Linked DNA regions of Homo sapiens: all the other regions are linked to region 3. Evidence: fine-mapped expression QTL. A gene starts in region 3. Each other region holds a variant in brackets. All regions are shown on one strand. Distances are from middle to middle.

Region 1 (8,103 bases), 37 kb before region 3:
ATAAATAAATAAATAAATAAATAAATAAATAAATAAAGGATAAGATAAGATAAATTAAAAATAAATATCTGCTCCCTACTCATTTGGAGATGAAGCCATGCAAGGGGAAGAGTGAAGAGGGTGAAAGCTGGTGACTATGGTCTGTCCCTCCTCTCTGCCCCCAGTCATTCAGCCCCAGCCCCACCTCCCAAGTCCTGCTCAGCAAAGAACAAGTACCACAGTAAAATTGCCCCATTCTCCTTAGAAGGGACTTTGGGGACCATCTCTGGCCCATCTAGCCTGTCCCTGGCGGAGTCTCATTGCCCCATCTAAGGGGCTTTATCAAAGCAACAATGCTTCCATCTTCTCACATTTCTATGAGTGGTTTAGCATTTCAGAGATGCCTACCCTGTTGTGCAGATCATCAAATGACATATGGGAAGCCAAAATTCCCATCCCTTCACACTGGCATGGATCCCTTATCCCCAAACAATAAGAGAAGTTGCCAGAACATATTCAGTCTTTCCAGAGCCCAAGCTCCTTCACAATGGGATAGATGCTATTTTCAGGCTGGGCATGGTGGCTCACACCTGTAATCCCAGCACTTTGGGAGGCCAAGGTGGGAGGATCACTTAAGCCCAGGAGTTCAAGAGCAACCTGGACAACATAGTAAGACCCTGTCTCTACAAAAGAATTAAAAATTAGCTGGCCGTGGTGGCGCACACCAAGCCTCCTTACTCAGGAGGCTAAGCCTGGGAGGTCAAGGCTGCAGTGAGCCACGATTGCACCACTGCGCTCCAGCCTGGGTGACAGAGCAAGATCCTGTCTCAAAATGAATAAAAATTAAAAATCAAATGAAAAAAAAGGATTCCATTCTCTCCTGATTACTCTGATGATACCTCATTGCACATCTCCAGCACATACCATCTGCTAAGCTCAGGAGCACCCTGTGACTCTGTCCAGATGTCCCATAAGCACCTGCATCCACATGCATTCCTAATGGAGGTCCCCACCTCCCCCAGCTCTGAGGCCTGTGTCTCCTCCTCCAGTCCCCTTTCTGGCCAATGGCACCATCACCCACCAGTCTCTCAGGTCTCAAAGTCACCCTGGACAGCTCCCATCTCCTCACTCCCAGAACCACATCCTTCCAGTTGATCCTGCCTCCTACCAATCTAGGCAAATAATAGTTTCACAGTAACGACCCCTGTGAGACCATGAACTTCTCAAATACAACCATGTTGATTGATTTCTCCTGTCTCCTCTCCCTAACACAATGCCTAGCACAGTGTTTTTGACCATAACTCACAGTGAGAAATATACTTTACATCACAATCAAATAGATGCACATATACATATGTCTACTGTTAAAGGTCTAATATGCTAAGGCTCTTTCTCCTAAATCAGGAATGTTCTCAATGGCACTGTTGCCTCCACTGCCACACCACCCCCTGCAGGGCCATGGATTTGCTGCACAGGGAGTGACGCCGCTTTTCTTACTTTGGATTAAACCAGTCCCATAGCCGAAGCTCTGTTGTGTCATTTTCCTTCCTTTGGTCTCCTCTCTTCCTTTTTCTTTGTCTATGTCTTCTTCCCCTTGTTGATAATTGTGGATCCTAAGTACAAAGGGAAAGTAAACCAGGTAAGGCAGGGAAGGTGATTGCGGTGGTCAGAGAACTGGTGAATATCTTGTGGAAATGTGTTCCAAGGCAGATTATGCATGCACTAAGTGAACTGACCAGAAAAAGGCTCTAGGCACTAAGCGTTTATTCATAAAGACATATTTTTGATGAAAAGATGCAGTACTCAACTCATTACCCTTCCAAGTCACCACAGTTAACAATTTAATGACCCAGCAACCCTCAGGTTATTTCAGGGGGGGTGAGGGAAACTTGATAAGACAATTCTTCTAAGAACATTTTAGTTTATGATTGTCTTTCCTGCAATCTAAACTTTAGCCCAGGCCAGGCATGGTGGATCACGCCTATAATCTCAGCAATTTGGGAGGCCAAGGTGGGCAGATCACCTGTCAGGAGTTAGAGACCAGCCTGGCCAACGTGGTGAAACCCTGTCTCTACTAAAAATACAAAAATTAGCCGAGTGTGGTGGCGGGCGCCTGTAATCCCAGCTACTTGGGAGGCTGAGGCAGGAGGATCACTTGAACCAAGGAGGTGGAGGTTGTAGTGAGCCGAGACCACGCCACTGCACTCCAGCCTGGGCAATAAGAGCAAAACTGCATCTCAAAAAAATAAAAATAAATAAATAAACTTCAGCCCAAGCCTCAGCCCCCAAGTTAACTGAAACAAAACAAAACAAAAGACTTATTTATCTGGATGTGGTAGTGCATGTCTGTAGTCTAGCTACTCGTGAGGCTGAGGCAGGAGGATCACTTGAGCCCAAGAGTTTGAAGCTGCAGTGAGCTATGTTTGCACCACTGCACTCCAGCCTGAGTGACAGTGAGACCCTGTCTCAAAAACAAAACCAACCCTCAAATGTCCTAGTCCCACTCACAAAATATTCTTCATATAATTTCAATAAGCAAGAAAGATGAGTGACTGAGAAGGTCATGAACATGAAACCATTGTGTGTGGACCCTCTGCAAGCACCAGGCGGGTGGGCAAACACCGACTGCTGTCTGATCGCCTTACCCATTGTTAAACCAGCTCAGAAACCACCAGCCCTTCTGAGCACTGCTGTCATCAACTTCTGGGTTTCTAAGAAATGAAAAAGTTTACAAATATTTTTAGAAAATGTGGTGTCCCCAAACTTAGGGTTTCCAAATTCTTTCTATAGCCGAGATTACTTTAAAAAAATAAAAAACCTTAAAATGCCAATTTATAAAACAGACAGAAATGAGACACTCTAGCTGAATGAGAGAGAACAGACCTGAGACTCCCTCAATCTCTCCTCCCTTGGGTAGCCCCCAGCCCTCAGCTCATCCTGGGGGCCCTAGAGGAAGAGAAGGGAAAAGGGGGCTGGAGTGGGGGTGGTATTAATGCATAAACCTGAGTTCTAGATCTGCCACTTACTAGCTGTGTGACTGTGATAGGACATTTTCCCTCTCTGAATTTTGACTTTCTCCTCCAAAAAGTATAGTTAATAGTACTAATAACAGACCTACCATGAAGGTAATTTTGAAGACTGAATGAAATAGCATACATATAAGAGCTTTATGAGTTGAAAATGACTGTAACAAGTTATACGCTTCATGAAAAACCGATGCATGTTTCCATGTTTCTTTAGCTAAAACCAGCAGAATTCAGATTGTTGTAAAAGTCTAGAGAAAAATTTGGGTTGCCCAAAGGTTAGCAGTAACAGCCTCAGGAAATCTGAGGGTCACTGAGCAAGAAGTTCAGGAAACTACTTAGAAGCCACTGTAGCCACCCATTTGAGAAAGTTTCCACACTCATTCATTGTGAAAGTCTCTTCAAGGTGGGGGGTCGGGCACGGTGGCTCACGCCTGTAATCCCAATACTTTGGGAGGCAAAGGCCAGCTGGTCACCTGAGGTCAGGCGTTCAAGACCAGCCTGGCCAACACAGTGAAACCCCATCTCTACCAAAAACACAAAAAATTAGCCGGGCGTGGTGGCAGGTGCCTATAATCCCAGCTACTCAAGAGGCTGAGGCGGGAGGATTGCTTGAACCCAGGAGAAGGAGGTTGCCGTGAGCCAAGATGGCACCACTGCACTCCAGCCTGGGCAACAGAGCAAGACTCCGTCTCAGAAAATTAAAAAAAAATAAAAAGAAAAGAAAGAAAAGAAAAGGTGGGTGCCTTCTGGAGGATGGGGAAAGAGGAAAGTCCGATGGACAAATACGGTGGTGAGCTAACTCATGAACAGGCATAATATTATGAAATCTGTTTTAAAGCCTATTAACTCTTGGAAGTGTTTGAGATGGCTTCCAATACGTAGGTACAATAAACAGAAAAACAACACAAGAATAAAAAACACAAGAGAGAACAGAAAGAGATACATTGATTTCGTCACCCAGGTATATATTTTCACATGACCTCAGTCATCCCAAAGAAAAGTTTCACCTTTACTTTCATTTCAGAGCTGAGATACTGGCTGGGTGGATTTCAGCAAATTTCCAAGGGCACATGACATGTGGGCACAAAAGCCGGGATTTCACACCAGGGGATAAAGTATATCAGAAATGAAGGCTGGGGTAAGTACAAGCAGTTAAGTGCAATACTTTGTTCTGAGCTTTCTGACAACCAACCCAACCATTGGAAATATAAAGGTTTACATGGCTCTCATTTTCTTTTCAAAAAATACAAAAAGAAAATTTTAATGATACACACTAGTTTCTCAAGAGGCTCAAATTTTTTTCCTGATTTTTATTCTTAGAGCAATTTCTTATATGGGTCTTTATATAACATTTAAAGGGCAGAATAATAGACAATATCTCCCCGGATACTTTTTATCAGCAAGACAGGAATGTTCCCCAAATGACACTGCTTAAGAGAACTTTGAGGAGAACTGAGGGCAAGATACAAGCCATGGTTCTATACAGATAAGTCTACGGAAGCTGCAGAAATAACATTCCAGATCCCCAGGAATCCACCCACCCACCCCTCCGACTTTGGCCGAACACCATGGCTGGCTGCCGTGTGAAGAATGGACTGTAGGGGGTGCCAGAGTGGCTGTGGGAAACATCCCCTAGAAATCTAGAATTCAAAGCACTTACTTTGAGTGATATATCCACAAGAAAGAG[C/T]CTTCTGTGCTAAAAGCAAAAAAGAAATAAAAACATATCATGTTACTTTTAATTCTGAGAAAGGCGATTTTGTAACCATTATCACTGAGCCCGGGGCTGAGCTAAGAGCCTGGGTTTTAGCTGCTTCCTGGTTTCTACCTTCCTTTGAGACATAACCAATGACATCAGGAGGATGGAAATTTCCACTTCAGGATCTCAAGGGGAAACAGTTTTCTGCAAAATCTCAAATTGTGTGTTTGTGTGTGTGTATTGTAGAGACGGGGTTTTGTCACGTTGCCCAGGCTGGTCTCAAACTCCTGAGTCAAGAGATCCACCCCCGTTGGCCTCCCAAAGTGCTGGGATTACAGGTGTGAGTCATCACTCCTGGCCTCAAATTCTGTTTTGTTTTTGTTTGTTTGTTTGCTCTTTTAAAAAGAAGACAGCTCTCCATTGCAGAGATGGGTCCTCTCCTGCCACCTACTCAGGTGCCTGGTGATGACGAAGGCCCTGAAAGGACGGAAATGCCGTGGCCCAGACATCCTTCCCCCAGGATTTATCTTCCTCCAGAAAAAAAAAGCATCAACTGCAGAGCCTAATGCCATGGCCAACTCAGAGCCTTCTATAGAACAGCCCCCAAAAGCATTTCTTTAACTAATGAAGGCAGTGAGACTCTTAAGCCCCTACAAGTGCTGCAGCCTAGCACGCATAACCCTACCTGGCACTCAGGCCATGGATTTATAGATTCAGGTTCACCAACTTTTCATATCTCCTCAACAACCCTTCTCCTTACCCTCCTCTCCAGAATCCTTCAACAGCACAATGGTCACAGCAATATCCACATTGCAGTGGCTTTTAAACATGTATTCATGCTTTAAGCCTCCACTCAAATGCCACCTTTTCAATGCCTTGCTTGATATGATCCTAGCACAGTGCCTGGTACATAGTGGATACTCAATAAATATTTGTGAATGGATGCAGAACAATGGATCCTCCTCCAAGCCAAACATAATTTTTGCCTCCTTGAGGTTTTTTTTTTTTTTTTTTTTGAGATGGAGTCTTGCTCTGTTGCCCAGGCTAAAGTGCAGTGGCACGATCTTGGCTCACAGCAACCTCTGCCTCCTGGGTTCAAGCAATTCTCCTGCCTAAGCCTCCTGAGTAGCTGGGGCTACAGGCACACACCACCATGCCTGGCTAATTTTTGTATTTTTAGTAGAGACGGGGTTTCACCACGTTGGTCAGGCTGATCTCGAACTCCTGACCTCAAGTGATGTGCCTGCATCAGCCTTCCAAAGTACTGAGACTCCATCTCAAAACAAAAACAAAAACAAAAACAAAACAAAACAAAACAAAAAGAATCGGAGGTAATGCATAGCAAGGGTCCTGGCACATGCCCTCAATAACTTGTAGTTCCCATCATGATCACCACTATCATGAATATTTCATCATAATTTTGAAGGCTTCCTCTAATTCTCTAAAATTCGAAGATTATTTTTTCATCCAGCCTGAAATCAAATGCTATCCTAGATGATATTCTTTCAATACGCTTTACTGACAATTCTTCTATTTACTAATTGGTTGACATGCTTGAGTTAGTTATTTTTAATCCATTTTAGCTTAGTGCTGCCTACCTGTGTAAGGTTTGTGTCCTCGGCTCACCTCAACCTATCATGTGGCCAATTCGTAAAGTGGCAAAAAAACAAAACAAACAAAAAAAAAAAAACAAAAAACAACTCCTCCCCTTGAAGTTTTTTGCAGATGTTCAAGTGGATTCTGCACATCAGAGGATGTTGTGGCCAGAGTCCAGGTGCCAGACGATTAGCCTGAAGAGCAGCCAGAACCTGCTCTGGCTACCATGCAGAGAGAGTGTGCCCAGAGAGGCTGGTATATACATGCACGTTTCAGCCTTTGGCTCAGTTATGCACATACAACTCTGGCTACAATTCCAAACACCAAAGTTATCTGATCAAGTGTTCAAACTCAGAGCTTGAAGGTTATCCAAGCAGACATTCCGACTCCAGGCAGGAACCCCAAAGGGTACTTGTTCTTCTGTTGGACTCTTCCAACTGCTAGAGCTCTTCTATTTACCAAAATCTTTCTTGTTCTGCCCTCTGGAGCAGATCATGATGATGATGACTGTTACGAAGTGAATGTTGTATCTCTTCAAAATTCGTATGTGGAGGCCCTGCCCTCAGTGCGATGATATTTGGAGGTGGGGCTTTTGGGACGTAATTAGGTTTAGATGAGGTCGTGGGAGTAGGACCCCCATGAAGGAATTAGTGTCCTTACAAGAAGAGGAAGAGGCAGTAGCTTACTTGCTCTCCATCACGTGTGGATACAGGGAGGAGGTGGCCATCTGCCAGCCAGGAAGAGCCCTCACTGGGGATCTTGGACTCCCCAGCCTCTAGAACTGAAAGAATTAAATTCCTGTTGCTTAAACCACCTTGTGGTACTTTGTTATAGTGGCCTGAACTAAAATGATGATGAGGAAGAGGAGGAGGAGGATGACAGCTAGCATTTATTGTTTATTAAGCCCTAGGCATTGCTTCCCAGTGCTTTATACACAATAACTTATTTAATTCTCCCAACAACCCTATGAGGCAGGTACTATTATAATCCCTCCCCCAACTTTTTTTTTGAGACAGTGCCTTACTCTGTCACCCAGGCTGGAGTGCAGTGGCAGGACCACAGCTCACTGCAGCCTCAACCTCTCAGGCTCAAGTGATCCTCCCACCTCAGCGTCGTAAGTAGCTGAGACTACAGGTGCGCACCACCATGCCTGGCTAACTTTTTAATTTTACTTTTGTAGAGACAGGGTCTTGCGATTTTGCCAGGGCTGGTCTTGAACTCCTGGGTTCAAGCAATCTGTCCTCCTTGGCCTCCCAAAGTGTTGGGATTACAGGTGTGAGCCACCATGCCCAGCCTATTATCCCCAATTTTTAAAGATAGGGAAACTAAACAAGAACAGAGTGGCTGAGCAACTTGCCCAAGGAGCAGCCTAGCTCTAGAGTCTGAGTGGGAAACGTCCTCAGCCCTCAGTTGCCTAAGAGAGTTCCAGGGTCCCCACACAAAACTCTGAGTCATCTCTTCTTTGAACTAAATCCCCTCAGTTTTCTCAATTCAAAAGACCTAGTTTCCAGACCCTTTTAACTTGGTCACACTCTAGTTTGTCATGTTTTTCTTAAAATGAGTTGTGCAGAATGAAACAAAGCAACATTCCAGAAATGGTTACATCTGTGCAGCACCACAGGGACTAATGGCTCCAGCATTCGGAGAGTTCTTCTGCTACTGATGCACCTAAAGGCACGGTTCCATTTTTAGTAACCAAGACAGTCCTCCTAGATCATCAAATCTTAGAATTTAAGAATCAAAAGAGGCCGGGCATGGTGGCTCACGCCTGTAATCCCAGCACTTTGGGAGGCCGAGGCAGGTGGA
Region 2 (8,103 bases), 130 kb before region 3:
ATCCTTTTATTGATAATATAAACCCAGACAAATAGTCTATCTGTAATAATATATAATAAACATAATGGCCATGCCCTAAAATCAACAGCTTAAGTTATAACAAACTTAATAAAATAAATGGTAAACAGAAAAACTGCTCCACCAACATAAGGCTAAGGCAAACACTTAACAATGTTATTTACTCCAGGGGGATTTTTATCTCCCTGCCTGCTTCCTTTTTCTTTGAACAAATGTTTTTGTATACCTACTATGTACTTGATACTGGGCTACTACAGTGAAGAAGGACACAATCTCTATTTTCAAAAGTGTGGTCTAAAGGCCAGGCTTGGTAGCTCATGCCTGTTGTCCCAGCACTCTGGGAGGGTAAAGTGGGATCGCTTGAGTCCAGGAGTTCGAGACCAGCCTGGGCAACATAGTGAGACCCTGAGTTAAAAAAAAAAAAAAAATTAGCTGGGTGTGGTGGTGCATACCTGTAGTCCCAGCTACTCGAGGGGCTGAGGTGGGAGGATCACTTGAGGCTACAGTGAGCTATGACTGCACCATTGCACTCCAGCCTGGGCAACAGAGCAAGACCCGGTCTCAAAAAGAAAAAGTGTAGTTTAATTATGGGAGGGGAGGGGACAGATGAGTCAAACTGATAAATATGTTATGTAATAAACATTATGATAGAGATATGCACAGGATACCAGGCAGACGCAGGGAAAGGGTATTCACTTTTTTTGTAGTTACAATAGTTTTCAGGAAATTGCTTTTCCATGCCTTCTTAAAAAAACTGATTTTGAATTCCATCTGTATCACTTTATCAACATCTTTTTTTTCCCTCAAAGATGACTAGGAATCAGTGACTGTCTTTTACTAGGTAAAATTTATACCATCAAATGGCACCAAAAATCTATTTAATCATGAATAAATATGCCAGTTTTGTAGACTTGGTCTTCCATAAGTTAATTTATGACCACTGATGGAATAACTCAGATTAATTATTGAAGAAGTTACAAAGTTCTCTCCAATCTGATTGGCTATAACAACTGAAATAAACAATCAGTCTCCCAAAGGGTTTTATTTGTTGACATGGCTCTTAATTACAGTGATACATTCTTTGCAATTACTTGCATTATTTCATTACAAAGTGAATGCATCGCCTTTAAGAAAAACTAGTCTTGCCCTAGGCCTGGTGCTATTTACCTACCTAGGACTAATTCTCAGTAAAGACAAAGAGGCAGAGTTTAGGCTTTTAAAATTCCACTGCTTCTTTCACAAGCAGCCTTCTGGAAGTCATCACTGAAGCTGTGTTCCTCCAGGCTTTTTTTGTTTATTGTCTCTCAACTTAAGTAAAGTACTGAAGTTAGACAAGGTTCTACATTTTGGTATCCATCTCTGGGATAGGGAAAATGATTCAGAAAATCAGATAGCCGGGGTTTGAAACAGGGCTGAAAATTTTAGAAACTGTGATTTTGCCATGTGAGCCGCAGTATCCTTATTGTGAAATGGTGAATAATGACTTTTTCCTTGTAGAGCTGTTACAGAATGCAATTAGATAATGTTTGTAAAGCACTTAAACTGTCTTTTGGCACAGGGAAAGCATTCAATAACCTCTATTTAATAAATTCCAGCAATACCTTTCCTAGTAGCGTCAAATTTGTTAGGTTTACATTAAAAAAACACAGACTATGCAAAATTTTATTTGTATGTCTAATTTTTGAGAGGAAGTGGTGGTTTTCATTAGATCTTGAAAGATTTCTGTCTAAACAGTAGTTAAGTGTAGAACCAAGGAAAAAAACTGGAAGTTAAAAACTCATCTATGACCACTTGTCTGTAAATAAACATTAAGTACAAAGATCATGTTGATTCTCAAAGAACTCCAAGCAGATTTGCCACTGCAGTTTCCCACCAGGAGGTCAGGGTATTGAGGAATGCATGCTAATACCCACCTTTTTATCTAGGAAAAGACAACTAACTATCGAAGAGGCAGTTACCACCCATTTTTTCCCTATTCAAGTTTTAGAATCAGTCAAATCTAGATTTAAATACAAACTAAGTGACTTTAAGTAATTTAACTTCTTTGACTATCAGTTTCATCAAGTATAATATGGGGATAAGAATACCTACCACATCATCTGTTGTGAAGATTCAATAAAATAATATATACATAAAATACGTGGCACTGGGGGGGTCGCGGTGGCTCATGCCTGTAATCCCAGCACTTTGGGAGGCCGAGGCGTGTGGATCACTTGAGGTCAGGAGTTTGAGACCAGCCTGACCAACATGGTGAAACCCTGTATCTACAAAAAATACAAAATCAGCTGGGCATGGTGGTGCACGCCTGTAATCCCAGCTACTTGGGAGGATGAGGCAGGAGAATCACTTGAACTCGGGAGGCGGAGGTTGCAGTGAGCGGAGATCACACTCCAGCCTGGGCAAGAAAAGCGAAACTCCGTCTCAAAAAAAAAAAAAAAAGTGATACGGAGCCTGACCTATTTAGTTTCAATTTTTGTTGTTGTGGTTGCCATTATTCTCATCAACTCCTCCCTGTTACACTCTCCATTTGGGAAGATAACCTGCAACGTTATTAGTAGACAAAAAGTGAGGAATAAAGATTTCTGTAATTCCTTTGATGCTCCTGGGAAGGAACTGAACACAGGGATCCCTGGACAAGGGAAATGGAACTTATAGCTAAGATGCTGTGGATAAAGCTGGCTTTACAAATAATCAGAATAGATGACTCCAATGTCATGTTCTTTGAGGGGTCCTGGAAAGGACCACCCAGCCCTCTAAATTGCTTTCACTGCCATCCTGCCTGAAATTCCATCTTTAGAAACACTGTAATTCCTCTGGATCACTAAGAGCTCCTGAGTGGGTACCAGGACTCCTGAGAGGTCCACCATCTCTCTTTATTGGAACCCCCTCCCCAGAGTACCAGTTCCTCCACAGGGGAACGAGACTGAGCCACTTACAGCTCCTGCCTTGAAGACTGGGAAGGGAGGGTGGGGGTGAGGGTGGGAGAACTCAGGGTTCCTGGCGAGGAACAAAAGCCGGGAAGGAGAGTTCTCCAAAACGCAGAGGAAAGCGGAGGGGGAAAAATGGGGCAGAAAGTGGAGCTAGAAAGAGAGGTAAGAAGAAAGCCAGAGAGACTTCTTCCTTCTGCAAATCGGTCTAAGTTTCGGGAGGTGGGATTGGGGGAGGAGGGGGTTCACCCTGGGGCCAGGCCAGGGCTGGGTGGAGGAGGCGGCCTTCGAGAGAGTGAGTCGGGAAAGAAGGGGAGTGGGCAAAGGGTGAGATGTGGGGTCCCGGTCCCCGCCTCGCTGGCTGCCAGTTCCCTCTGCGTTTCCTAGTCCGCGTGCGTGACACGAGATAGTGCAGCCCTGGCATGGGGCTTGGCATCTGGCGGCCGCGAGATAACCAGGGCCCGTGCGATGGGAAACGTGCCGTTGGCAGCCCGCCACCCCTCCATCGTGACCTCAGTCTGCCAAACAGGGTTCGTGATGCTCAGTTTACTAGGGAGGAGCCGCGGCTTTGAGATCTCGCCCAGCCCGAAGCAGCGGAGACTGGCCAGGAGCCCGGCTGTCAGACCTCGGAGCGCACGCTGCGGGCGGGGGCTCGGTCCACGGGGGAGGGTCAGGGGACGCGGGACTCACCCTTGAAGGAGTCGGGGAGCCGCTGGGCTTCGGAGTCCCGTGTGTGCCGCTTCTCGGCCATGCTGCCCGAGACGCAGTCGCACTCCCCCGTCCTCGTTGCCAAACCCGGAGCCGCCGGGAATGCCCTGAGGAGCCAGAGGCACAAGACCCAGATTGCCGCCCCGCCCCCAATCGAGGTCCCGCCCTCGTGAGAGTTGGCCAATCAACGCCCAGGATCGAGGAGGACCCACCTCCCAATCCCCGCCCTCCTGTCCCTCCACGGCGCGACTGCTTCGCAGTCACTTCCCGCTAGTTCTGTGGGCTGAGGGGCGTGGCCTGAGGGGCGTGGCCTGAGGGGCGAGAGCCCCCAAGGCTGTGGGTATGAGGCCGGGGCCCTGCACCGGAAGGGAGGGCGGAAGCCACGGGACGTGGAGCAGATGGTGAGGATAGTGGGGAGGTAGCAGCAGAGGATGACCCGAGGCAAAAGTGCAAGTGAAGAAAAGTCGCCTTGCCGGGCAGAGGTACGGGACCAAGGCGCCTCCTCTGGGCTGAGGAGTTAGAGGGAAGAAAATGGCGCCCTGTCATGAGGGCGCGAGGTCCGAGTTGAGGGGAGAAGACTGAGGGACACAGAAGTGGCCGAAGTGAGGGCGCTGAGGTCAGCCTGAGCTGAGAGGGCCGGCAGATCACGCCGCAGCCGAAGTGAACGAACTCGAGTGAGGTGTGTTAAGAAAATCAAAATGTATAAATTTGGAAAAGGAGAGGAGGCCGGGCGCGGTGGCTCACGCCTGTAATCCCAGCACGTTGGAAGGCCGAGGCGGGTAGATCATCTGAGGT[T/C]AGAAGTTCGAGACCAGCTTGGCCAACATGGTGAAACCCCGTCTCTGCTAAAAATACAAAAATTAGCCGGGCGTGTGGCGCGCGCCTGTAATCCCAGCTACTTGGGAGGCTGAGGCAGGAGAATCGCTTGAACTTGGGAGGCAGAGGTTGCAGTGAGCCGAGATGGCCTGGGTGACAGAGCGAGACTCCGTCTCAAAAAAACAAAACAAAAAACAAAAAAACAGGAGAGGAGACTTTATTTCTTGTAAGGGGTTACAGCCTGCAAGGTGGCCATTCCGCAGGCTGGAGAATGGCCAGGACCAGAGACAGGCATTTCGTTGGAGGAGGGGTTGGAGTAGCGGCTTTATGCTGAACAGCTTGGGTAGACATGCATATTCAGCAGGTGACAGGAGGAGCTATGAATATTCATGAGGGTGGTCCTGACGCATGCCCATTGAGCAAACATGCATGTAACATACAACCCATGTTCATTTTGGAGTGAAGAGTTACCAATTAAATGTTAAATGCCTGGCCTGCATGGTGACGTCCCCATCTCTACAAAAAGTAAAAAAAAAATAGCCAGGTGGGGTGGTGTGTGCTTGCGGTCCCAACTAGTCAGGAGGCTGGGGCAGGAGGATCACTTGAGCCCAAGAGTTGGAGGCTGCAGTGATGTATGATCAGATCACTGCACTCCAGCCTGATGGACTCTAAAAAATAATAACAATACATGTATTACAGTTAGACCCCATGCGTCAAAAGGTCTTTTCAGGACAGGAAGGTGTGCAAGTATGCAGTCTGTGTAAACTAGCCAGAGCCAGTCCATGGTCGGTAGTTTTCCTATGAGGAGAAAGTTACTGAAATCAGCCTCTTGTCCAATTAAAGCTGTAATGATGGCTGGTGGAATAGGGGTTCCATTAGGCCACATCTGGTGGAGCTGCAAATTGTTTTAATATTGCTTATCTCGAGGCCAGTGCTTGTTAAGCTGCTAGAGAAAGAGAACAACCTTGTGGCAGTTAGAACACAGTTTATTCTCTAAGTGAAGGGATGTGTGCCTTAACCTTTGCCTGGCATGACCTTAGGTATAATTTGTTTATAATTTGGTATCTTATTGTCACAAACAGTCTGTTCTGTCAGTCTTATGATCTGTGTTTTAACGTTAATGCTGGTCAGCTGTTGTGTCTAAACTCCAATACGATGAAGTTATAATGAGGCGAGTCTGACCTTCTGTCCTGTCATTGGCTGGGAACTCAGTTTTAAAGTTTTCTGGAGTCCCCTTGGCCACAAGGGAGTCCATTCAGTCGGTGGGGTCATTTATTCAAACAAAATCTTCTTGGAGCATCTTCCATGTGGCAGGGAGTGTGCTAAGGGCCTCGTGGAGTTTACCTTATACTCTAGTTGGGAGATGGGCCACAAACAAGTAATTGAATCATTACACATGGTGAAGGAAGCTGTGAAAGGAGTGGAATATTCGGAGAACAGCAAAGGTTAGGACAGGGGAACACCTCTGTAAGGAAGGGGCTTTGAGATGTCGCCTGAGAAATGAGAAGGAGCCAGCCTGGGGAAGGGGAATAAGCGGTGCAGGAGGTGGGAAAGGGTATCCCAGGTAGAGGGAAAAGCATGTGCAAGGGCATTCCCAACCTCAGGCCTTCTCTTGGGGTGTGGCTGAAGACCTCATATTTGGAAAGTAGGCTGTGTTTGCATTAGACTTGTTCTATTGCACAATGTTCAAAGTATGTTAATGTACACAAGGTGCACTTATAAAAACATTCGATTTTGAAATAAGTACAGATTCACAGGAATTTGCAACAACAGTACAGAGAGGTCACATGTCCCCTTTACCCAGTTTCCCCCAATAGTTACGTCTTACTTAACTAGAGTATCAAAACCAGGAAATTGACAGTGGCACAAAATGTATTTATAGTTCTGTGCCATTTTAACATGTGTAGATTGATATAACCACAGTAATTGATACAGAACTATTCCATTACCACAAAGATCTCCCTCAGGAGGAGCACTTCTTTCTTAATGTGCTCAATATTTGGCTGTGTACTACCCAACACCTTGTGGTGCTTAGGTCATATGAAATGGTAGACTTTCTCTCTGATTTTACAGCTCTGGAGCTTTGTGACTATCAGGACGGAAACGGGAGCAGACACAACAGGTGTTAAGAGAGGCATTAAGATGATCTTTGCTTGCAGGAACAGGCTCCAGTGTGTGATCAAAACCTGACTCAGAGCTTGCAGTTGACTTTTAGTCAAATACTGGCCAAGAACTGTTTGTATTCCTGGGATGGAGTGCAGCTTGTGCAGTCACTTTGTTAGCCTTCTGGAGAAGATAAGGAGGGGAGTACAGTAATTTAATGATCCCTTCTCTCTAAATCATCCTTGAGAAAGTCCATAGCTTCATTTTTCCATTCTGTAACGAATAAGCCCTGGAGACATAAACTTCCCGTTTATCCTGTCATTCCCAGGAAAGAGGAGCAAATACACAAGAAACTAATTAAACCCTTCGGTAGAGGAGGCCTTGATTACAAATTGCATATTGTGAAAAAGGATTTAGGTTTCATTTTTGTTGGAAAGGAAAATGGTATTTCAAAATGAATTTAATATGTGTACCCCTATCAGTTACCTAAGCCCAAGTCTCAAGACAATCTTAACAGTGTAGTGTCCCTTCTGGAGAATTAGAAGTGTCTCCCTTTGGGGTAAAGACTTTGGTAAACACTTCTTGGCTCTGGTTTCAGATTGCATCAGTTCTAAAACTAATTCCTGGCCCTAAACTAAGAACAAGCTTTGACTTGATTTTTAAACTGCTTTTAGAATAGAGTTTCCAATTTTTTATTTAAATATGCTTACTCTCACTTGCCCATGAAATTGGTGTATTCTGGCTTTCTCGTGCATATTCTGTTATAAATGTATTGATTAAATGTACTTTAAAAATCAATTTCTCACTCTTAAGATTAGAAAAAAACAAATATTAGTACATCCCTTTCTCCTTTTGGAGGATTTTTAATCTTAAATTTTCTCCCAGTAATGATTAGAAGTTAGAATGATTTTTTTTAAAGAACCTTATGGCCAGGCGCAGTGGCTCATGCCTGTATCCCAGAACTTTGGGAGGCTGAGGTAGGCAGATCACTTGAGGTCAGGAGTTTGAGACCAGCCTGGGCAACATGGTAAAACCCCGCCTCTACTGAAAATACAAAAAATTAGCCGGGCATGGTGGCGCATGCTTGTAATCCCAGCTACTTGGGAGGCTGAGGCAGGAGAATTGCTTGAACCCGGGAGGCGGAGGTTGCAGTGAGCGGAGATCATGCCACTGCACTCCAGCTTAGGCAACAGAGTGAGATTCCATCTCAAAAAATAAAATAAAATAAATAAATAAATAACATTATGCTTTTTAAATGGAGACATATAAAATTGTGAGTACTTTGAAGAGAGAATTTCTTATCACCTCTAACAAAACTGCTATTACAATTTTGGTGAATTTTTCCTCTAGTTGTTATTTGAAGGATACTTATATATAGTTTGAAAATCAGAGTAGATGTTCCATATTTCCTTTATTTTTTATTTTTATTTTTTATTTTTTAGATGGAATGTTGCTCTGTCACCCAGGCTGGAGTGCAATGGCATGATCTCGACTCACTGCAACCTCTGCCTCCTGGGTTCAAGCAATTCTTCGG
Region 3 (8,103 bases):
TCTCAGCTAGTGGCACCATCATTCATACAGTGACCCGTGATGGAAAGCCACCATAAGATAATTCTAGCTTGGACTTGTTGAGTTTGCAGTGCCTTTGAGACATTCAAAACAAAGATGCCCATTGGGCAGTTAAACATGTGAATTAGATGCCCAAAGTTTGAGATAAGATGAATGCTACAGAAGTAGCATTTAAAGCCATGAACATGGATGAATTTGCCTGGCCCACAGAGTACAAGTACCAGGTCTTTAAATCCCAGTTGACCCATAGAGACTAACCTGTTATGTGATTTTCCTTACTTCTCTGTTGATTCCCCATTGCTCACAACTCCTTATCATGGCATGAAAGTTTCATCACAATCTGCACTTATTGCATCTATATAATGTGTATCAGTTAGCTTTTGCTGCAGCCATGCTGCATAACAAACAACCCCCAAATCTTAGCTTTTGGCCACAAAAGTCTATTTATTTTTCACATAACATATTAGTGCCCAGAAATCCCTATTCCTGAGGTCATTATTCCAACCACCATTTGGTTCTTTCCTTCCCAAGCCCTGGCCCATAATGGTCTCCATATCACCATCTCCATATCACCATATCCCTATTCTGCCCTGACTCATGTTATTTTCTCCAAAAACTCTTAAAATTCAATCGTAAAAAATAGAAGGTAGGCCGGGCGTGGTGGCTCACACCTGCAATCCCATCATTTTGGGAGGCTGAGGTGGTCAGATCACAAGGTCAGGAGTTTGAGACCAGCCTGGCCAACATGGTGAAACCCCAACTCTACTAAAAATACAAAAGAAAATTAGCCAGTGTGGTGGCAGGTGCCTGTAATCCCAGCTACTCAGGAGGCTGAGGCAGGAGAATCGCTTGAACCCGGGAGGCAAAGGTTGCAGTGAGCCAAGATCATGCCACTGCACTCCAGCCTGAGTGACAGAGCAAGGCTCCATCTCAAAAAAAAAAAAAAAAAAAAAAAAAAAGAGAGAGAGAATCGCTTGAATGAACCTAGGGGGCAGAGATTGCAGTGATTCAAGATCCCACCATTCCAGCTTGGGAGACAGAATGAGACTCTGTCTCAAACAAACAAAAAAAAGAGTTGTCAAATCAAACACGTAAGATTTGTAGGTTTTACAACTGGGCATGGTGGCTCACACCTGTAATCCTACCACTTTGGGAGGCGGAGGTGGGTGGATCACCTGAGGTCAGGAGTTCGAGACCAGCCTGGCCAACAGGGTGAAACCCTGTCTCTACTAAAAATTAAAAAATTAGCTGGGTATGGTGGTGCACGCCTGTAATCCTAGCTACTTGGGAGGCTGAGGTGGGAGGATTGCTTTAATCTGGGAGGTGGAGGTTGCAGTGAGTCAAGATAGCATCACTGCACTCCAGCCTGGGCAACAGAGGGAGACTGTCTCAAAAAAAAGAAAGAAAATAAGTTTTACATATCCAACCTAAAATAAAAGGAAAGTACAGGGCAAAGAGTACATTCATTTCAGATAAAATTATATTTATGAGTTTATACCTCTATTAATGTCCAGTCCCCTACTGAAAGCTGCCCCCTCCTTCGGTTGTTCTCCCCTCACCTCTGCCCCGTCTCCATGACATTTGTCCATTAGCCATTTTTTAGCCATCATGAGAGGTGATGTAATGGAAAAAGCACCAACCTTAGAGCCAGAACTGCATTCAAATCCTAGCTGCCATTTAGTTGCTGAGTGCCCATATGTTTCTTGGTCTCTCTCAGCCTTCCTTTCCTCAACTAGAAAATGGGTTAGCCTGAGGGGCTGCTCAGCCCACAGCCCCTCAGGCTCCAGTCTTAGAAGGCTGGACGAAGGCAGGGACGGGCGCAGAATGGGGACAGAGACTGAGTCCGTTCTGACATAGAAGTAGCAACAAGAACAAAAGCAGGGACACAGGCAGGTACCTAGTCTACTCAGTTGGGCCAGGGAACCTCATTATTTTTTACCTCAACCTGTGAGACCAACTCACATAAATGGTCCCACTAAAGGTCTGGAAGTGCTCAGAGGATGAGATTCACAGGCTTCTTCTCCCAGAAGGGCCAGAAGGCAGCCCTGTGGCCCTGGAGTTGGAGTGTAGGAGAGCTGGTGGTAAGAGCTGGGGAAATGGCTGCTCAGAGCCACCATGGCCAGACAAAGGCAGCTCCTAGCCTATGATTTAGGGGACAGGTCTCCTGGTAAGGTGTGGCCACTAGAGAAGTTTGCCCAAATCACGTTGCACACTTCTGGACCTCAGCTACTCCACCAAAAACTGGATCAGGTTGGATCTGAGCAATCTGACATCAAAAACGTTCTCAGGAGTTTCCCAATACATAGAGGAGATAAAGGAAGAACAGAACTGGTTCTGTCTGAAATAAGATAGGGAAGGGGCCAGAGCCCTGTCCTCTAGGTTCCCCTCCCCTACCATGGTGGCCCTTGAGGCAGGATGCCGGGCCTTACAGGACAGAGTTGAAACTTCTGGACTGGGCAATCCCTAGGGACTCGTTCAGCTCTGCCTTATTCAGTCATTGAGCACCTGTTACATGTAAATGAGATAACTTAGATCCACATGCTGCCCCCATCTGGTAGAGGAGGCAAAATTCACCCAGATGTAACTCCGAAAGAGGTAGAAAGTGCCTGATGTAGTCAAAGAAGCACAGAAATGCAGCAGAATAACCCTGTCCTCCACACCCCCCACTCCCAGAGCCCTCCTTCGCCATGCACTTGCATTTCCTTACTCAGAGACTGGAAGGAAGGTCTCCAGTAGTATCCTTATTTCACAATCGGGGAAACTGAGGCTCTGTCTGGGAAGGTGGTTCCTTACTGGCAGCAAGCGGCAGGCCAGGGCTGCACCCTACATCTCCTGCTTCCTCAGACACGCCTGTTTCCAGGTAAAGGAAGGAGGCAGCCCGGCCTGCTCAGGAGCCCGAAGGAGTGCAAAGGAAGAGCAAAGCCTCAAAACACCTGCCTCGGGTCTCGGTTCCTTCCTGCCGGAGGAGCGGCTCTCACACCCTCCGCGCCTCCCAGTCCCTCCCGGCCGCCACAGCGGGAAGATCGAGGAATCTCAAATCCCTCTGCTTCTCTGGCTCTTTGCGCGCTGACATTTTTTTCTTCTTCTTTTTACTGTTTTTTTTTTTTTTACTTTCTTCAAGAGTTTGTGCAATCATTGTGTTTAGCCGTTTTCCTGCCATTTCCAAACGCGGGGTGGTGTCCTTTTCGAGTAGGAGCAAGGTTTGAAGAGTTGGAGGAAACTCCCGCCTCCCATCGCCCCAGTGCTGCAGGCACCCCGGATGCCAAAGTTAGTGTCGGAAACTTTCCCCATGCTGGGCGTCTGACTGAGTCCTCGGCTCTCCGAAGCTCTCTGACATCTCCCTCTCTATTCCCTTCCTCCTTGGGGTTCCTGCGACCCTCACTTTATCCCCCCACTCCCAGATTCCCCTTCCCAGAGGCGCGCCCTTCCTATCTTGTCCTGGGCAAGAGCCATTCCTCTGTCCTGCCCCACAGGCAAGGACAGACCCCTCACTCACTGCGACTTACTTGGTCGCATCCTGTGTCCCCTGCGTCTCCCCTCTCTTCCCCCACCCCAACCCCGCGGACCCGTGGGGGAACCTCAGCTTGCAGCTCTTCAGGCTCCAGTCTTGGAAGGCTGGACAGAGGGAGGGACGGCCACAGGATGGGGACAGAGGGACAGAAACTGGGTCCGATTTGGCACCGAGGTAGCGACAAGAACAAAAGCAGGGACACAGGCAGGGCAGACACCGGGCAGCGCCGGAGCAGCGGCCCGCCTCCACTCCCTCACCACCCTCTCCCAAGCGCGGAGCCCCCCGTCCGTGTCCTGCTCGTGGCCTCCGGGGACCTGGGCGGCTCCCCGCGGGACCCACCTGATCCGCAGAACCAGGGCGCCGAGGGCCGGCGCGCGGTGAGCTGGGCTGAGCAGGACCGCGCCCAGCTCCCGGCCCCGGCGAAGCCCTACGCGCTCTGATCAGCCACCGCGCCGCCTCCGCCCGAGCGGAGGCGCGTCCTCCCGCCCGTGGGCCGGCCGGCCGGGCTTCTGCTCTGGGCAGAGCGCAGCGGGTAGGGGCGCGAGGAGCCGGCGAGCGCTGACAGCGGGCTGCGCCAAGCCGGTCCCCGCCCCGGACACAGACAGCTGGAAGGCCGGCGAGCGAGTGCGTGAGTGAGAGTGTGTGTGTGCCGGGGAGGCGGATAAAATCCCCGGTGAGAGTGGCTGGGCCTCTTTTGCCTTCTCGGGCCTGCACGTGGTGGTGGTGGTGTAGGTGATAGAGCAGGAACCCCGGGCGTTGGAGGATGGGGTGGGGTCTGTGCTGTGCTGCTGGGAGGGGCTGCGCTGCGCTGGCGCACGGCCAAACTCTGGGAAACTCAGAGCCTTGGAGATCTGATCCACCGTTTGTTTCCCGAGGAAGGAAGAGCGCGAATGTAGACAGCGGCAGGCCGGGGCTGGAGTCGCTCTTGCGAGAGTCCTGAGCTCTGGAAGTGAGGGCTGGGCGTTGGGCACCTGGTTCAGGGTCTGCCCGCGTTTGCGCACTGACTTCATGATCTGTGAGCCCAGAGTGTCTCAAACGGGGCTCTAAGGCAGCCCCTAGGCTGTGGAATAACTCTTTAGTAGAATTATGTAGAAAGGAATCCAAACATTCGATTTCAGAGTGTGCGCTTCTGTGCCCAGTGTGGCAGCAATTCACTCAGAGAGTTGCTGTGGCCACAACTGGCTGCCCTCAGTTCTCTTGTCTTATACTGATAGCGACAAGGTCTTCTCACTCCCGCTCATATCAATCTACTTTACAGGTGGAAAAGTCAGAACTTCATTTTGCCATTTGCCGTTGAACGTCATTTTCATAGACTAAGAAATTCGCTTCTTAAATAATTCGGCCGGGCGCGGTGGCTCACGCCTGTAATCCCAGCACTTTGGGAGGCCGAGGTGGGCGGATTGCTTGAGCTCAGGATTTCCAGACCAGCTTGGGCAACGTGGCGAAACCCCGTCTCTACAGAATATAGAAAAATTCCCCAGGCCTGGTGGCGTGCACCTGTAATCCCAGCTACTCGGGAGGCTGGAGACTGAGAAAGAAAAGAAAAAATAAAAAATAAATACAAATAAAAATCAAACTGCCAGGCCAGGCGAGGTGGTTCTAGCTTGTAATCCCAGCAGTTTGGGAGGCCAAGATGGGTGGATTACCTGAGGTCGGGAGTTCGAGAGTAGCCTGGCCAACATGGTAAAACCCTGTCTCTACTAAAAATACAAAAAATTAGCTGGGCATGGTGGCACACGCCTATAATCCCAGCTACTTGGGAGCCTGAGGCAGGAGAATCACTTGAACCCAGGAGGTGGAGGTTGAAGTGAGCCGAGATTGCGCCACTGCACTGCAGCCTGGGTGACAGAGCGAAACTCAGTCTTAAATGAATAGACAAACAAACAAACAAAAAAATCAAACTGCCATGAAAACTACTTTACCCAAAATTTTAGTTCACAGCCTTCATTGGATTATCTATTGGGGCAAACAAAGTAAAACCAGCGAGCTTGTATTGCTATCTCATGGCTACAGTTCCAAGCTATTGGATCTTTGTTTGTGTCGGTATATACATGTCTAGATGTGTTTATTTGTAGGTACACTTACTGTTATATCTTGTGCCTACCAAATTGGCATATAAATAAAAGAGTGCTCATAAATTAACTAAATAAGTCTAAGCAATTTTCAAGTTCATATGACTTAAGTATAACTTTAATAAACAGGCTGGTTTTAAAATTATTGGTAAAATAGAAATGCTTTCAGAATTGTCAGCATACATTTTTGTCTGGACTTTATATTTGTCTCTGCTAAATACTTTGAGGTGTCAGAGTTTGGCATAGAAGGTTATAAAACTATAAACCCAGCCAAAACAAAATGATCTTGGTTTGCGTGCTTTTTTTTTTTTTTTGACAAATGAGAGTTAATTTAATACTATTAGCTAAATCTTCTGAGTTGTTGGCAAAAATAGCTATGTATTTAACTTTGATATCCTTCCTTATGTTTAGGTGAGCACCTGATGCTCACTGGCTATTAAAAACATGGTTAGGCCGGGCACAGTGGCTCACGCCTGTAATCCCAGCACTTTGGGAAGCCGAGGTGGGCGGATCACTTGAAGTCAGGAGTTCAAGACCAGCCTGACCTCCACCTACTGGGTTCAAGGGATTCTCCTGCCTCAGCCTCCTGAGTAGCTGGGACTACAGGCACATGCCACCATGCCCAGTTAATTCTTTTATTTTTAGTAGAGACAGGGTTTCACCGTGTTAGCCAGGATGGTCTCAATCTCCTGACCTCGTGATCTGCCTGCCTCAGCCTCCCAAAGTGCTGGGATTACAGGCATGAGCCACTGGAATATTCTTAATTCATGGCAATGTGTTTGTTTGCATACAGTCGAGCAGCATCATTTGGGCCGCTCAAGGAGAAAGAACCCAGAAACCTAACATGCCAACAATAGGGTAAGAATTTCTTTCTTTTTTTTTTTTTTTTGAGATGGAGTCTCGCCCTGTCACCCAGGCTGGAGTGCAATGGTGTGATCTCGGCTCACTGCAACCTCTGCCGCCTAGGTTCAAGTGATTCTCCTGCCTCAGCCTCCGGAGTAGCTGAGATTACAGGTACCTGCCACCACACCCGGCTACTTTTTGTAGTTTTTAGTAGAGGTGGGTTTCACCATCTTGGCCAGGCTGGTCTTGAACTCCTGACCTCGTGATCCACCCACCTCGGCCTCCCAAAGTGCTGGGATTACAAGTGTGAGCCACCGCGCTGGCCTAGGGTAAGAATTTCCTACCAGTTGGACTTCTGGCCCCTCTCTCTCTCTCTGCAAACTGGTTGAATGACTTATAAAAGATTATAATAATTCATGACAATGCAAATTTTTGTAAACCTTTTACATGTTTGGTAGCCTTCCCAGGATCACATTTCAGTTCTGAGGTTGTCTTTTTTTTTTTTTTTCCTTTGGGACAGAGTCTCGCTCTATGGCCCAGGCTGGAGTGCAGTGGCATGATCTTGGCTCACTGCAACCTCCGCCTTTCATTTTCATTACATCTCTGCTTTTGTTGCTTCATTTTTTCCTTGCTTTGTTTCTGCATTTTTGTCCAATTCTTTGCTCAGAATGCCAAGAACCTACACACCCTCCACCGGTAACACTTCCTTTTTTTTTGATATGGAGTTTCGCTCTTGTTGCCCAGGCTGGAGAGCACTGGCTCGATCTCAGCTCACTGTAACCTCCACTTCCCGGGTTCAAGTGATTCTCCTGCCCCAGCCTCCTGAGTAGCTGGGATTATAGTTGTATGCCACCATGCCTGGCTAATTTTTGCATTTTTAGTAGAGACGGGGTTTCGCCATGTTGGCCAGGCTGGTCTCAAACTCCTGACCTCAGGTGATCTGTCCACCTTGACCTCCCACAGTGCTGTGATTACAGGCTTGAGCCACCACGCCTGGCCTAACACTTCTGTTAAGCCCACCTGGAGCCTACTACTGGTAGGCCCTCCCCAGTGACTTGGATAACCACCTCTTGCATTTCTTGCATTTCCTCTTCCCATCCTCTCTCACCCTGTCCTCCCTCTGTCCTCCCCTTTCTTCCTCAGATTCTCCATGTCAGAAACACCAAGGTGAGGTGGCCTCTGGCAGGCAGGGTTTGGAATGCACTTCCAGAATGTTCTTGGCAGGGAAAATGCCCTCCTTGAGATCTTGGTGGGGAAGAGAAATGTCAGTAACAGTGAGCTGGGAGGCAGGGGGAGGATCGATTTCCCCAAAGTCTGATGAGCCTTTTTCACAGAAATACCAGATAAAGGAAGTGCAAAACTTCCACAGAACTAGAAAAACACACAGCCCAGGAACCCTGAGAGATGGCCAGTCCCAGCCCTCAATTTATAGATGAGGAAACGAGATCCAGATGGCAGTGACTTCCTCACAATCACAAGCTTGGCATTTGCAGAGCTAGGTTTTGTTCCCATAGCTCTCTCACTTGCTTCTCAGCCCCACGCAGGTGGGGAAACTCCTAGGTCTTGGGGGCCTGGGGGGAGGTGTTTTAAAGAAATTCCCAGGAGTGGTAAGGTTGGTCCGGAGAAGCAGAAGGGAACGTGAGAGTAGAGTCTTGGAGG
Region 4 (8,103 bases), 21 kb before region 3:
CCATATGGCCTATAAGTGAATTCTTCCCTACCACCCACCTCCAATCCTTCTCACACAGAACAACACACACACCCTCTGAGAATCTCACAGTTCCACCCCAACAGGGCGAAGTCAAGGTAATTCGTTCCAAACAGAATTCCACTCTGAAAGGAATTCTAGCAGATCCTATCTTCTCCATCTCGTGCCAGGGGAAAAGGTGAACCTCTCAGCTGAATGCCATGCACTCAGATGCCATGGAAAAGCCATTATCTCAGAGAGCAGGAATCCGGCAGGGTGAAAGTGGTGGCAGGAGAAACCAAGCCTTCTCCGCAGGCTAAAGAATTCTCCTCCCAGCCTGAGATTCCTACATCAGGCCCCTAGAGCCCACCCGTCCTCCGCTTGAGCCTTAATCACTTTCAGGCTATTGTGATGGGTCCAGACTGGCACAGGCCCTGGCTCCCAGTAGGAGCATCCCAAGTGTCAGAGCCGTTTGAACCACAGCAACTCCATCTTGAATGGGAGCTGGGTAAAATAAGGCTGAGACCCACTGGGCTGCATTCCCAGATGGTTAAGGCATTCTAAGTCACAGGATGAAACCGGAAACCAGCACAAGATACATGTCATAAAGACCTTGCTGGTAAAACAGTTTGCGGTAAAGAAGCCGGCTGAAACCCACCAAACCAAGATGGCGATGAGAGTGACCTCTGGTCCTCCTCACTGCTACACTCCCACCAGCACCATGACAGTTTACAAATACCATGGCAATGTCAGGAAGTTACCCTATATGGTCTAAAAAGGGGAGCCATGAATAATCCACCCCTTGTTTAGCATGTCATCAAGAAATAACCATAAAAATGGGCAACCAGCAGTCCTCAGGGCTGCTCTGCCTATGGAGCAGCCATTCTTTTATTCCTCTACTCTCCTAATAAACTTGCTTTCACTTTACAGATTCACCCTCAATTCTTTCTTGAGTGAAATCCAAGAACCCTCTCTTGGGGTCTGGATCCAGACCCCCTTCCTGTAACACAAGTGTTTGGGGTGAACAAATGAGTAAGGAGAGTTCTGAGGCACTCCAGTTCTGCTCTGCCATGGATTCATTAACAAACATGGACTAGGCTACTGTGCTCCAGATGGTTTTTGGAACTGGAGATGCTTTACTGAACAAGATTATCATAGAGCTTCTGTTCCAATGGGAGTCAAGAGACTCAACAGGATATATAATGTCAGGTAGTGACAGTGAACAAAGAGAAGGAAAACAGGTAAGGGAATGGGGAAGGGTGCAGTAATTAACTGGGTATTACTGACCTTGGACAAGACTCTAGTCTTAAGTCCTCCAGATCCTTGATTATAAAGGAGAGTGTTCAGCTCCAGCATTCCAGGTAAAAATTAGGCTAAGAGCAAAGACTCTTAAATCAGCAGAGTCCTAGATGTACACCTTAGGCCACTTACTTTAACACTCTGAGCCTCTATTTACATATACAAAATGGAGATTCTAACACCCTCCTCAAAGGGTTCTTGAAAGCATACTGTGCCCATGGTCTGTTAATGCCCCCCACACAGTACCTATAATAATGATGATGCTTTTTAATGGGAGAAATTCAGAAATGCATGGCTCAGAGCTTGGTGTGAAAGCAGGGCTGTGAGTTCATCTGAGAGGGGAATCTTGATGGGCAGCATCTCTCAGAACAGTCAGGAGCGAGTCCACACGCCAACTGCATGTTGTGATAAAGTCAGCTCCATGCCCTGCTCTATCCCAGGAACACGGCTCTGACCAGACCAGCTGCACCTCCATTTGCACCCCACCCCACCTCCTTGCTCCACCCCTGCCTCACCCTGTCCCCAGCCTTGTCATAGTCCTGCAGGTCAGCCCCAGCACCAACACAGTGCCAGCTTTCTAAACTGGCGTCACGAGTTTCTCTGGCCTCAGACTCCTTGGCCCAGAAACAAGTCCTTTGGAGCTAAGATTCCCCAGTAATCCCCAGTTCTTCTCTGATGAACCCAGGATGTGCATGAGAAATCAGCCTCAGGGATGTAAACCTCATTTTTTGAGGGCAGTTCTTTTAGCCACATAGAGCTCACCCTGCTGCAGTGACCTACACGGGCCCCTTGGTGTGATGATCAAATGATAGGATTCATCAACTATCACTTCTCAGCCTTTTGGCTCAGATCATGCATAGGAACCACCAACCAATATGCGCTGAATGCAGAGGCTGACTTACCAGGAGCTAATGACGCTTAGGTGTCAGGGTCCTCATGTGCACAAGCCCCTTTGCAAGACTGGGCCTGATTTCCCATTAGGGTGAGCATGAGAAAGCCCCAAATGCTTCCCAGAGGTAGAGTGTTGCCTTGCCTGGGAGAGTCACTCTCTAGCCTCAGTGCCTGTCCAGGGGCTGCAGGCTGAGCTGGGGTGCTGACCCATTACCTGCACACCCACCTAGGTCCCAGAAACAACCGGTCCCAGGTGGACCTTGTTGAGCACCTGGGCCCCTCCTCCTTTGGCCTCAAGAAGAAGGAGATGAACTACACACTACTCTCTCTGCTCCCTGCTCAGGGGTCACTATGATCCAGGTCTCACAGCCACCTCGTGCTCCACCCAGGTTCGTCTGCCTCACTGTGCCTAGCAAGGATCCAGGGCTGAGTTTTCTCATGATCTGGCTGGAGCCACCTGAGAAACTGTCAAATGACTTAGAGAAGTGGCATCGCCAATAACAAATTGGGAAGCTAAAATAAATTGCTCTAAACTCTCAGTAATAAAAAGCACCCATTGATTAACCATGCCACAGGCAAAACTGATTTATCTGTCTTTTCTCTTTTATTGGAAATGATTCTAGAAAACTGTTGTCAGATAATGTGGCAGTCAAAGAGTATGTAGCCCAAACATGACAGGTGTATCAGACAGTTAAGTAATACTAATCATTTTTGTATTAGTTTTACATCATTTTCTTATGTCGTTGTTTTCTGGATTTTGTTATATTTGGAATGTTTGTCAGTCTTTGTTATTTGTTGTGATATCACTTCTCATATTCCAGATACTTACTTTCATACCTAACATTGCATTTGCAACCTTGCTTTTTTTTTTTTTTTTTTTTGAGACGGAGTCTTGCTCTGTCACCCAGGCTGGAGTGCAGTGGCACAATCCCAGCTCACTGCAAGCTCCGCCTCCCAGGTTCATGCCATTCTCCTGCCTCAGCCACCCGAGTAGCTGGGACTACAGGCACCCGCCACCACGCCCAGCTAATTTTTTTTTTAATTTTTAGTAGAGACGGGGTTTCACCATGTTGGCCATGATGGTCTCGATTTCCTGACCTCGTGATCTGCTCGCCTCAGCCTCCCAAAGTGCTGGGATTTACAGGCATGAACCACCACGGCCAGCCCATTCTTCTTCTTAAAGAGGGCTCCCCAAATGGAATCAGCTTCAAACCCTGCAACACCTGTATTTTCCCCAGTCAAGCCAGGCCAGGCCAGACCCTGGGCTAAACCCCTTTTCAGGAGTCTCTTAGTTAAGCCCCATGACAACCCAGTGAAGTTACTCTATTATTATCCCCATTTCACAGATATGAAAACAGAGGCTCAGAAAGGTGAAGTAACTTGCCTAGTGTCACATAGCATAAGGTGGTGGAGTTGGGGTTCAAATCCAGGGAGCCAGGCTCTAGTGCCCTCTCTTTTAACCACTCTGTTGCTCTAGAAAACATGAAGTCTTCTGCATGGGTTAATTGCTGTGGGGCCAGCTCTTCCTTGGACCAGCTGGTGAGCATCAGCTCAACTCTCCTAGCATTTCCAGGCACCTTCTGTGTGCGTGTTGTGGGGTGTCCTCACTCACAGCATCTTGTTTATTCCTCACAATGGTCAGTGCGGTGGCCTTAGTGTGGCTTTTTTAGCTGAGGAAACTGAGCTTTAGCAAAGGGGCATAGCTTGCCAGAGATCACTGGGCATGCCCAGAAGTCTTGGTGCCAGATTTAAAATGCCTGCCTCCCAGGCCCAGCCCTTGGCATAGGGATGGTGCTGGGTGTAAGGAGGAAGAGTGCCTTATTATCCTAAAACCTCAGTGAGCTGGTGGGT[C/T]TTACAAGGAAATGCTTCCACGATACAATTCACGGGGAAGCAGGGGAAGTGCATGGAAGGTTGTCTCCAGTTTTGTTTTTCATTATAAGGGTCAGAGTAAACAGACACAAGAAAATAAGAGACAGGTCTCAGACTGAATACATGGCCCACTGTCGCTCCAGCCATCTCAAATGGAACGACCTGTTCTCTGAAGTATATCTTACAGTGCTTTCTCTCGAATCCCCTTTGGGAAATCTAAAGGCTGAATCCAGCCAGCTTTTCCATGCTGCCTGGTCTGGAAATCACTGCAAGGGTTTTTCCCAGAGAACCAAAGTAAGATAAATGAAAGATGCTACACAATTCTGAGAGGGCTCTGCCTCCATCCATAACTTCACCCTGAGCCCCAAGACTTGCCCCCTGCTCCTGCATTAACAACTTAAATCCTTCAGGAAAAACTCCAGGCTGCAGCTTGGCTGCAGCCCTGTGAGGTCCTACCAGGGGAGCAAAATAAAGCTGAACTTACAGTGAAGTCCCTGAGCCGGCATCCTTCTTCCAGGTCCACTGCTGGAGAGACAAGGACTTGGTCCTCTTCCAAAACTACTGAGGGGGCCACCGAGAGTTTAGGGCGATCCACCCGTGACCCCAGCATGGCAGAAGCAAATCATTTCACCATCTCACATACCTCCTGCCGCTTTCACCCCAGAGTAAAAGGCAAAACAACAAAGTTCTTTTGAGCTCCCTTCTGCAGAAGGAGGCAGGACTCAGAGAAAGGGAAGGTGCTGGTTTCAACTCCTGTCGAAAGAATAAACAGCTGTTTCAGGAGATGGGGAGTAGACAGAGCCCTCAGCAGCCAGGGGCTTTGTTCCTTGCAGGCCTTTGGGAAACGAGCTGTTTATCAGGCCTGTTGACTCAGAGCTGTGTGCCAAGGCAGAAATGTTCCTCTCTGGATCCATGAGCGGCCCAGCCTCCTTGCCAAGCAAAACCATGGTCCAAACTGGGCCTAGTATGGGAGGAGGAAAGGCCACCACCCACCCTTGAGAGGGACACCAAGGGGGCCCACATCACACACTACTGGATAAAAATGGAAACCATTCTGGACCCAAACAACTTCAAGTGACTGCTCCTAGGACCAGCCACCAGCCAATGGAGACGTTAAAACACACACACAAACACACACACACCACAGAGGAGTGGACAAAGGGCTATCTTGAGAGTCCTCAAGACTGGTGGAAATTCTACCTAAATGTTCCTCAAAGTTAAGTCCTTCCTCTACATCTTTTAGGCTTCAGAAGTCGCTGTTTGGTTTGAACACTACATTTTTATAGAATGTTACGGGATCTCCCACAGCACAAAGCACACTACAAGAACTTTAAAAGGTCACCAAGGCTCAACTCCGCTCTCTGGCTGAATAATGCTTAACCCTTCCCATACCCACCTCCTGCTCCCAAAATAGAATCTTGCAGCTGGAAGGGACCTAGGGGCAGTGGATTTTCTTTCTTTCTTTTTTTCTTTTCTTTTCTTTTTTTTTTTTGAGATGGAGTCTCACTCTGTCGCCCAGGGCGGAGTACAGTGGCGTGATCTCGGCTCACTGCAAGCTCCGCCTCCCGGGTTCAAGTGATTCTCCTGCCTCAGCCTCCCGAGTAGCTGGGACTACAGGCACATGCCACCACGCCCAGCTGATTTTTTTGTATTTTTAGTAGAGATAGGGTTTCACCACGTTGGCCAGGATGGTCTCGATCTCTTGACCTCGTGATCCGCCCGCCTCAGCCTCCCAAAGTGCTGGGATTACAGGTGTGAGCCACCATGCCCGGTGGGCAGTAGATTTTCCAATGTCGAAACAGCTAAAACTTTTTCAAAAAGCAAACAAAATCATTCTCAGAATCCCCACGACCTGAAACAGAGCACACGGAGTCCTTTGGCTAAAGCAGGGAAATGATGCTCAAAGCCCCTTCCTCATCCTCCCACGTGGCTGAGACATCTCCAGGGAGTACAGTCTGGAAACCCCAGACTAAAGACAGGGGACCAAAGCCAGACAGGAAGGAATCAAGGACTGGCCCCCCGGTCGCTCAGTAGTGCCTAATCCAGCCTCTTCCTCCCGTTCCCCAGAAGGAAATTTCACAGCTTCCGCCTCTTAAGGGGATGAGTTATTTGGCCACAACCTTTAGGGTCCAGAAGTCTTCCTAATACCTTGCTTAAATCCTTCCTGTGGCTAACTATTTAAGCCAAACAGATGCCCACCTGCCTATCCTATTGTTCTGCTCCCAGTTCCACACCCAAACGAAAGTGTGTGGATGTTCACCAAGACACAGGCATTAGAATATTCATAGTTGGCCGGGTGCAGTGGCTCAGGCCTGTAATCCCAGCACTTTGGGAGGCCGAGGCGGGTGGACCATGAGGTCAGGAGATCGAGATCATCCTGGCTAACACGGTGAAATCCCATCTCTACTAAAAATACAGAAAATTAGCCAGGTGTGGTGGCAGGCACCTGTAGTCCCAGCAACTCGGGAGGCTGAGGCAGGAGAATCACTTGAACCCAGGAGGCGGAGCTTGCAGTGAGCCGAGATCGCGCCACTGCACTCCAGCCTGGGCGACAGAGCAAGACACCATCTCAAAAAAAAAAAAAAAAAAAAAAAATTCATAGCACACCCCAAACTAGATGCTCTCCCAAGGCGTATCATCAGAACAGGTAAATTATCACCTAGTCCCACAATGGGATTCTACCTAGAGCAATGAGAATGAGCGAGCTACAGCTACTCACGTCAAGGAAAATCTCACACACACAGCACTGAGTGAAAGAAACCCAGCATAAAAGGTACACACTGGATGATTCCATTTATTTAAAGTTCAAAAATAGGCCAAACTGGCAGGGGGCGGTGGCTCATGCCTGTAATCCCAGCACTTTGGGAGGCTGAGGCAGGTGGATCACCTGAAGTCAGCAGTTTGAGACCAGCCTAACATGGTGAAACGCCGTCTCTACTAAAAATACAAAAATTAGCTGGGTGTGGTGGCATGTGCTTGTAATCCCAGCTACTCAGGAGGCTGAGACAGGAGAATTGCTTTAACCTAGAGGTGGAGGTTGCAGTGAGCCAAGATTGCGCCACTGCTCTCCAGCCTGGAGATAGAGTGAGACTCTGTCTCAAAAAAAAAAAAAAAAAAAAAAAGAATAAAAAGTGGCCAGGCACGGTGGCTCACACTTGTAATCCCAGCACTTTGGGAGGCTGAGGCGGGTGGATCACCTGAGGTCAGGAGTTCGAGACCAGCCTGACCAACATGGAGAAACCCCGTCTCTACTAAAAATACAAAATTAGCTGGGCGTGGTGGTGCATGCCTGTAATCCCAGCTACTCAGGAGGCTGAGGCAGGAGAGTTCCTTGAACCTGGGAGGCAGAGGTTGCAGTGAGCCGAGATCATGCCATTGCACTCCAGCCTGGGCAACAAAAGCGGAACTCTGTCTCAAAAAAAAAAAAAAGAATAAAAAGTAACAGAAATCAGAAATCTTCCTGCTGGGAGCTGAGCTCTCCTGGGCACTGTCTTTCCCCGCTAGGGCCACAGGACCTGGATGGGCCCTGCCTCCCCAATCCCAGGCACCACAAACACCTCAGGAGGGGCTCAGGGACAATCTGTTGTGCTAAAACAATCTAGGAGGCCAGGCACAGTGGCTCACACCTGTAATCCCAGCACTTTGGGAGGCTGAGGCAGAAGGATCCCTTGAGCCCAGGAGATGGAGACCAGTCTAGGCAATACAGTGACAGCCCATCTCCACAAAAAATGTAAAAATGAGCTGGGCATAGTGGCATGTGCCTGTAGTCCAGCTACTCAGAAGACTGAGGTGAGAGGATCACTTGAGACCAGGAGGCGGAGGTTGCAGGGAATCAATATTGCACCATTGCACTCCGGCCTGGGAGACAGAATGAGACCCTGTCTCAAAAAAATAATTAAAAAATCGGCTGGGCACAGTGGCTCATGTCTGTAATCCCAGCACTTTGAGAGGCTGAGGCGGGTGGATCTCCTGAGGTTGGGAGTTCAAGACCAGCCTGGCCAACATGGTGAAACTTTGTCTCTACTAAAAATATAAAAATTAGCAGGG

Evidence for each region. PIP is the estimated chance that this variant, and not a neighbour inherited with it, causes the effect.
Region 1: its variant is fine-mapped to the expression of GGTA1 in left ventricle (GTEx, PIP 0.97).
Region 2: its variant is fine-mapped to the expression of GGTA1 in whole blood (TOPMed, PIP above 0.99).
Region 4: its variant is fine-mapped to the expression of GGTA1 in monocytes (TOPMed, PIP above 0.99).

Annotation. Positions count from the first base shown.
Region 1 is chr9:121,458,628-121,466,730 of GRCh38, forward strand. GGTA1 (glycoprotein alpha-galactosyltransferase 1 (inactive)) reads right to left here. Exons shown (of 6, transcript NM_001382585.1): 3 at 4,666-4,701; 4 at 2,625-2,690; 5 at 1,477-1,592. LOC102723324 (a long non-coding RNA gene) reads left to right here. Exons shown (of 7, transcript NR_187160.1): 6 at 4,030-4,143; 7 at 4,364-4,744. Among named protein-coding and RNA genes, the nearest start is that of GGTA1, 37 kb to the right of the region's middle. The variant C/T (reference allele first, on the strand shown) is at 4,693.
Region 2 is chr9:121,366,492-121,374,594 of GRCh38, forward strand. STOM (stomatin) reads right to left here and starts at 3,759. Exons shown (of 7, transcript NM_004099.6): 1 at 3,636-3,759. The coding sequence starts at 3,696. It overlaps LOC102723324 (a long non-coding RNA gene), which reads left to right and starts at 3,402. Exons shown (of 7, transcript NR_187160.1): 1 at 3,402-3,475. RefSeq lists enhancers at 3,764-4,724, 4,184-4,273. The variant T/C (reference allele first, on the strand shown) is at 4,449.
Region 3 is chr9:121,495,782-121,503,884 of GRCh38, forward strand. GGTA1 (glycoprotein alpha-galactosyltransferase 1 (inactive)) reads right to left here and starts at 4,063. Exons shown (of 6, transcript NM_001382585.1): 1 at 3,869-4,063. RefSeq lists silencers at 2,369-2,663, 4,013-4,112.
Region 4 is chr9:121,474,526-121,482,628 of GRCh38, forward strand. All of the region lies in intron 1 of GGTA1 (glycoprotein alpha-galactosyltransferase 1 (inactive)), which reads right to left. Among named protein-coding and RNA genes, the nearest start is that of GGTA1, 21 kb to the right of the region's middle. The variant C/T (reference allele first, on the strand shown) is at 4,039.